2 linked regions of the Homo sapiens genome follow. The protein of the gene in region 2 purifies or fractionates together with the protein of the main gene of each other region. This does not show direct contact. Each region holds a gene or a part of one and is shown on either strand. Other genes may lie near its edges.

Region 1 (4,119 bases), on a different chromosome or scaffold from region 2:
AGTGGGAGGAACCAGACAATCAGTATCTTCCCCTGCCACCCTGCAATAGCAGATGATGATGGCCTTGGGGTCCTGTCCTTCCTCATATAGGGCTATTTCCATTCTCACCCCTGCTTGGGCCCTTGCCTGGGCACCAGACATCCCATCTTGGGACAGAATTCTTTGCCCCTAGAAAGATATGTCAAGGCTAGAAGAAAATCTGAGATCATCAAGTTCAACTCGTTGATCATCAAGTTCAACAGAGAATAGCAGTGACTTGTTTAAGCTGTCACAGGCAAAGACTACAATTAAATCAGTTATTATCTATAAGGTGTTGAGAATTGTGCCTGACACACGGTAAGCACCGTTTACATGTTTGTTTTTATATGAAACAGATCAAAGTCTTCTAATTGCCACCTTTCCCACTTCTAGTCAGGGATTCTCATCCTGCTTCAGCACCCTATTACCTGTTGTGTTGCATGAAGACCAGGTTCCAAAGCTCTACCAGCTGGGGGGCTCCCACCCCACCAGCAAGGTCGTAGTGGATCTCAGTACAGGGCCCACAAGGGCCAGTATCCCCCATCTCCCAGAAGTTCTCTTGTGGTCCAAAGGAAAGCACACGGCTAGCAGGCACCCTGGGGAGAAAAGCAGGTGAGTGGTGGGAGACAGACAGACCCAGAAGCTGGGACTCTCTCTGCCATGAGAGCCCCTCCCTCAAGTCACAGCTCAGCAAGAGGAGGAACAGGGCTGACCCCACAATATCCTGGAATGAAATGCTAAGACTCTGAGGATTGGTGCTGGTAGTCTCCACTTTCCAGTCCTCCTGACCTCCAGGAATGAACATAAGAAGGGGGCTGACTTACCCTAAGCTCAGCCAGATGTCCCTGGTCTCCAGGTCTGGGTCCAGCCCTGCCTTGGGGTCACCATCAAAGTAGGAGATCCAGAGCCTTTCCTCAGGGATCCCATAGACCTGAGTCAGCAGTTCCCAGGCCATGTTACAAGCCTCCTCCTGCAGCAGAAACCAGCATGGGGTGGGGGGGGAAGACGGGTGAGAGGGAGACCCCACTGAAGTAATCAAGCCACATGAGTTTAGCTCCCGACTTAAGACAAAAGCATTTCTGCTGCCATCTTGTTCCCAGAATAAGCCATGAACCATTACTGCCTCTGAGTGTTTTCCTGCCCAGAAAGCTTCCCCCTTCTTCTAAGTCCTATCTTCTTTCAAGTCCCAGACCAAGTCCCACTTTCACATGAAATTCTCTGCCTACTCTAGCCTAGAGTGATCTTTAACTCCAGTAAGCACCTTAGCATTGCTGTTTGACCATTTATTCAAACAACAATTTTTGAGTGATCATTAGGCAGAAAGTACAGTCTCTGCCCTTCAGGGACTTACAATCCAATCAGGGAGGTGAGGTAATTCCTGTTACACCGGCTCAACTAGCACTTTGCCTCCACATCTGGTATGAGGCCCTGCCTAAGCAGACAGTACAATGGAAACAGGACAAATTGACTCCCTTCTTGGCTGATCACTGATCCCCAGAGACTCACCTTAAAATATTCACCCCCAAAGGCCCAATTGCCAAGCATTTCAAAGAAGGTATGATGGGAAAGGTCTCGACCCACATCTTCCAGGTCGTTATGGTGTCCTCCAGCTCTCACACATTTCTGGCTGTTGGCCACACGTCGGAAGCCTGCCATCTCGCTTCGTGGATCCACGGTGCCCAGAAAGATTGGCTTGAACTGGAAGCACATAGAGTGGGGAGGGGGAGAGGGATATCCAATTTCTCAGTAGAAGGGAAATGTGGGGAGTGAGGATAGGGATGGCTGTTCAGACCGAAGGCTGACTGTGCCCCTGAGAGTGCAGTGTAATCTTGGTCTATGAGGACAAACTGGGAGCCTCGGGACAGCCATCTCTGGTGTGTGGGGAGCAGAGAAGAGGTAAACAAATCATGAACCGGAGACCCTCTGCCTAGTAAAATAGGCAAGGTAAAAGAAGGAGGAATGTGTTGGGAGCTGGAAATGGGACGCTGAAAGGTGGCATCCTCCGTCTCAGCTTCTTCAACCACACCCAATAACTTCAGGGAACAAAACTGAGACTCATTTAGTAGGGAGCCCAGACGGCCTCTAAGGTTAACTTATGCCGCCCCTATTTTACAGATGAGGACAATGAAGTCTAGAAAAGATGAGTGGTTGATAAAAACCAAAACCTTAGAGAATAGTACTCAGCAAACAATAGGTGATCAATAAACATTTAATGAAAGCGTTATCTTTATTTAAATAACGAATAAATGAAATCAGACTTCTCCCTCGGGATTCCACTCCAGCCATTTCTGGACCTAATACTCAATCCCAATCCAGAAGTTCCCAGCTCAAGCCCTCCCCAAGCCCTCCCTATACTCTGAGCGCCGTACCCCCATCACTTTACCCAACCAAGCACCGCCCTCTTTCCCCAAAAGCTACGAACTCCGCCTCTCGCTTCTTTTGCCCAATCCTGCAGCGTCTTTCTCACCAGAAAACTCACGAACTCCGCTCCCTATCAGTATGGTTCGGCCCTCACCTGGTTCATGCCCGCATTGACAAAAAGCAAACTGGGGTCGCCGCGGGGCCGCACGGAAGCGGAGGGCACCAGCCGGTGGCCATGGCGGTCCCGAAAGAAGTTCAGAAAGGCGGCCCTCACGGCCGAGGCCTTGGCTGCAGGGGGCTCCGATGAGAGCGGCCGATGGCTGAGGCCCCGCCATGCGGGCGACCTTCGAATGGCCCGCCGCAGCCTCCGGGCTGCAGCTGCCACTGACGCTGCCATCGTAGCTCCGGGCAGTGACTTTACGTGGTCAAAGAGTGACGAGGGAAGGAAGCCAGGCGTTTCCTACAGCGGCCCCTGGCGGTAGGAGGACTCAGGGGGCGGCCTCTGCCGCCGGGGTGGAAGCGATCGATTGGGTCGCTGGCAGAGTCTAGCACAGCGCCCGGCACATAGTAGGCTCTTAATTCATTCGGCATTAAGCAAATATTCATTGAGAGCCTACTATGTGCTAGGCATTGTTTTGGGCTTTTAGGGTACAAAATTGACAAAATGCCCTGCCCACTGAAATCCGTATTCTAGCAGTAATTGCTGTTGTGCTTATTAGTTTTGCAAAGTTACAGATGGGGTTGCAATAAACAGGTGTGGATTCAACTTCGTGTGTGTGTGTGTGTGTGTGTGTGTGTGTTTTGTGTGTGTTTTTCCAGGCTGAGGGAAGAAGGCAGAGAGTGACAGGGGAGTATCAGCATTCATTCAAGAGGTATTCAACAAATATTTATTGAAGACCTAGTATGTGCTAGGCACTGTTCTAGGCATTTGCCAGTTTCCTTGGACCTTGGCATCAGACACGGCCATTTTTGCCCGTGAAGCAGGAGTCTATAGGAGAACACAGAAGCCAAACAGCATCTGCTATATTATTAATTGCCTAACATTTGGTCTTCTCATTTGCCTGGGGATCAGAGAGAATCCAGGTCGTCAAGGCAGGAGGAAGCTGTTGGCTAATAGCTGCAGAGATTTCACTCTCTAAGCCTTCTAATGCCCTAAGGTTTTGTGTGTTTTCGTTTAGGATAAGAGATATACCTGTTCTACCTCTCCCTTCTGTCTTTCCATAGTAACAGCTGTGACCCTGAAGCCAACAGGCCCTTGTGGATGCAATCAGGGTGCTCATGGGGCTTCTCATGATGCCCTTGGCTTGGGAAATTAAACAGATTGGGAAGACAGAAGAGAATCTGCCAAAGCTAAAACTCAATAGAGGTTCCAGAGCTGAGGTCAGTGTAATAACCGAGAAGGCCTTAGCCATCAGGGTGGTCTCTTTTAGCCACGATTCTGTGTGTGTTAAGTTATTTGGGGTCTTTGTATACATAGTTTCTCTGCGGAATCTACATTGGACTTGAATTTCTATAGTGATAGTAAATTCTTAACTTTGTGTTCTGACAGCACCTATAACTCCTATTCCATGATCCCCTTTTTCTCCCTTTGCCCACATAGATTAAAGGTGTTGTTTTGAAAGTGTGTTTGGCCTGTTTTGGTTTTTCCAGTGTTTCTGGAACAGAAAGCTAAAGCCAGCTGGGGATTTCTGTGTGATTAATGACTTTTTTATTTTTTTGAGATGGGGTTTCACTCTTGTT
Region 2 (3,500 bases):
TCTTGGAAGCAAGAGGCAGTATGCAGGTCAGAATGGACTTTTCTTAAGTGTTTCTATAACTTACATTATGCACCCATGTACAGTGATGGTGCTAGTTATTTCAGGCTTTTCCTATTTCAGTAACAAGCAATATGAAGCATTATATCTATTGTAAATGTCTTCTTTCACACTTTACTTTTTTTTTTTTTTTTGAGGCGGAGTCTTGCTCTGTCGCCCAGGCAGGAGTGCAGTGGTGCAATTTTGGCTCACTGCAAGCTCCGTCTACCAGGTTCACACCATTCTCCTGCCTCAGTCTCCCGAGTAGCTGGGACTACAGGTGCCCACCACCAGGCCCGGCTACTTTTTTTGTATTTTTAGTAGAGGCAGGGTTTCACCATGTTAGCCAGGATGGTCTCGATCACCTGACCTTGTGATTCGCCTGCCTCGGCCTCCCAAAGTGCTGGGATTACAGGCGTGAGCCACCGTGCCCAGCCGACACTTTACTTTTTTCTATCTCTGCCAGGGCATTTAATGTGAATGCTAAATATCTGAGAATTTATATCATTTAATAAGAAATCAGGACAATAGATTGTTTAAATACTGATGGACACAGCCAAGTGCGGTGGCTCACGCCTGTAATCCCAGCACGTTGGGAGGCCTAGGTGGGCGGATTACAAGGTCAGGAGATCTAGACCAGCCTGGCCAATATGGTGAAACCCCATCTCTACTAAAAATACAAAAATTAGCTGGGCGTGGTGGCAGGTGCCTGTAGTCCCAGCTACCTGGGAGGCTGAGGCAGGAGAATCACTTGAACCCAGGAGTCGCAGGTTGCAGTGAGCCAAGATCGTGCCACTGCACTCCAGCCTGGGCAACACAATAAGACTCTGTCTCAAAAAAAAAAAAAAAATCCGTGTACACATGGCAGATTACAATTGGGAATTTTTGCATTTGAGCTTTGTGTTTGTGTATCTTTCCTTGTTGCATGTATGCAGTTTTCCCTTCTGAAATCCTAATGTGCATTAGGGTGGCAAATAAGGTAAAAAATAAAGGAGCAGAAAAAGGAAAAAGAACCAGAATTACTAAGGAAAATAAAAGAGTAGTTTTTTATATGTATATTTTCTGATTTCATAATGTTCCTTTCAATGAGGTATTTCTCCCCAGAAACTAAATGATTTTAAACTGGCAACACATTACACACATTGCTGCACAAATCATTATTCTCTATGGAAAACTGTTCACTTGAATTCCTCCAGAAGTAAAAGGTATCTTTTAGAGTAAACGACGATTGTCAGAAACAAAAAGAATGCTAGCGAAAGCACTTTGTCCATATGTCTATTCTAGCACTACCATGCTACATTGTAATTTCTGTTTATGAGTCTATTGAGGTCAATTAACTGGGCACTCTGTGAGGTCTAGAATGATATTTAATGTACTTTTATCTCCCTGTTGGCTATTAGAGTGCCTGAAACATAGTAGATCCTCATATTCAGGAATGAAAGGAAGGTAGTTCATAGGGAGAGGAATAGCAAGATAAGCAAATATAAATTCGGACACCTATTTGACTAGAATTGAAAGACTGTAGAGGTCAAAGAGTTGCCAATCTTATGGGAATAGAAACATGTTTATTTTCTGCTTCTAATCATACAAGTGTAGGATATAGGAGTTGTGAGAGTCTATGCTTCCATAAAATGCTTCAGGGCACCTGGCTGGCTCACACTGTAGCGCATGAGACTCTTAAAATGCTCCCTTTTTTTCTACCAAGATCCTTATCTCCCTCTGCTCAGACTCCTCGCCCTGGGCTCCTGCTTCTCTTATGGCCAGCATCTTGATCCAACTGCCCTCCCTCTGGCCCTTAGAGATCAGAAAGAGGCCAGAGCCAGTGGTCTGCAGTAGTGGGGATGGCTATAGCCTGAAGATGGCCAGTGCCTCTGGAGCCAAGAGGAACCAGGGACAGTTCGGGTAAAAATGGGCTTGGGAAGCAAACGGACTATCGTTTAAGGGATGAGCATACAGATAAGTGATCCCAAAAGAACATACAAAGCTGATCTCAAGGGCGAGGAACTCGTAGATGCCAGTGGATCATCATTACTCCAAATTTCAAACCAAGCCCAAGACTTGGGGTTTCTATTTGAACACATTCTGAGCAGGTTATTGGCACAGACTCAAGGGTCAATCATGGCAGGGGGCAGCTAATCAGATGTTTGTTCCCAGGCCTCTACAACCAGTCATGGGAAGACTGAGGCTTAAGTGCTGTATTAGTCCGTTCTCATACCGCTATAACGAAATGAATGAGGCTGGGTCGTTTATAAAGAAAAGAGGTTTAATTGGCTCATGGTTCTGCAGGCTGTAAAGGAAGCATAGCAGCATCTGCTTCTGGGGAGGCCTCAGGGAACTTACAATCATGGCAGACGGCAAAGCAGAAGCAGGCACATCTCACATGGTGGGAACAGGAGAAAGAGAGGGAGGAGGTGCGACACTGTTTCAAAAACCAGATCTCATGAGAACTCACCACTCACTGTAGAGTACCAAGAGAGATGGTGCTAAAACATTCATGACAACTCCACCCCCATGAGCCAATCGCCTCCCACTAGGCCTTCCCTCCCACACTGGGAACTACAACTCAACATGAGATTTGGTGGGGACACACATCCAAATCATATCAAGAGCTGAAGATCCAGTCCTTGTGTTGACACTGCTGGGGAGCAGACTTTGGGAAGTAAGGGGTCACCAAGGAATAAGGCAAGAAATCAGTTACTTGGAAATTACGATGCCAAGGTCAGAGCAGGATTAACTGTACAAGCAGGAGTTAGAAGAGTCATATAGAGATGCTTCAGAAAAAACATTATAATTATTATAAATATAATACTGTTATAATAATAAGACAGATGATAGGAATTCTAGATGACTGTTTTTTGATATAAAAGCCAAAAAAATCAGAATTCAGTAGATTAAAACAATATTTTTCATATATTAATTACAAGCATGAAGAAGAAAAAGGGGAAATAAAATATAAACACAGTTCAATTGTTCTTTATATTTTAGCATATAGGGAGATAGTACTGGAGAGGCTACTAAGAACAGATACTCAATAAATAAAATATATAACATAAAAATTCCAATAAAGTATAGTGTTTTATATATATATAATATGGTATAAAATATATAAGAACTTGTTCACCTCAAAGTTTATGTTTTTGGTGTCCTTAAATTGAAAACAATTAAATATTCATACATATAATCTGTAGAAATATAAATCTTTTCTTCTTATTTACAAGTTACTTTATTATTACTAAATTAGTTATTTTCTGAATTCTAATTTATCTGATGGTAGAAAACACCCAATTACATACAACCTAGCAATTTGTGCAAACAATGCACTAGGCACATGATTTTCTACAGCATACTATTAAGCTGTATCTTTTTTTAAAGAATTTGGGTGCTAGCGGATTATGAATTAAAAGGTTACTGTGTCAAATTCACATTAACTGGTGGCAAGAACAAAAATCTGGCGTCACCACCGC

What was found. Proteins that work in one complex are often made in the same cells at the same time.
Region 1: the proteins of FGL1 (region 2) and AARS2 purify together in Homo sapiens (affinity purification with mass spectrometry; 4 studies listed by BioGRID and IntAct, with this or other methods). This does not show direct contact.

Annotation. Positions count from the first base shown.
Region 1 is NC_000006.12:44,310,548-44,314,666, forward strand, and holds the start of AARS2 (alanine--tRNA ligase, mitochondrial), read right to left. Parts: upstream 2,801-4,119; 5' UTR 2,777-2,800; coding exon 2,534-2,776; intron 1,717-2,533; coding exon 1,525-1,716; intron 989-1,524; coding exon 843-988; intron 615-842; coding exon 447-614; intron 1-446. UniProt on the Homo sapiens protein: Catalyzes the attachment of alanine to tRNA(Ala) in a two-step reaction: alanine is first activated by ATP to form Ala-AMP and then transferred to the acceptor end of tRNA(Ala). Also edits incorrectly charged tRNA(Ala) via its editing domain.
Region 2 is NC_000008.11:17,878,525-17,882,024, reverse strand, and holds part of FGL1 (fibrinogen-like protein 1 precursor), read left to right. Parts: coding exon 1-26; intron 27-3,500. UniProt on the Homo sapiens protein: Immune suppressive molecule that inhibits antigen-specific T-cell activation by acting as a major ligand of LAG3. Responsible for LAG3 T-cell inhibitory function. Binds LAG3 independently from MHC class II (MHC-II).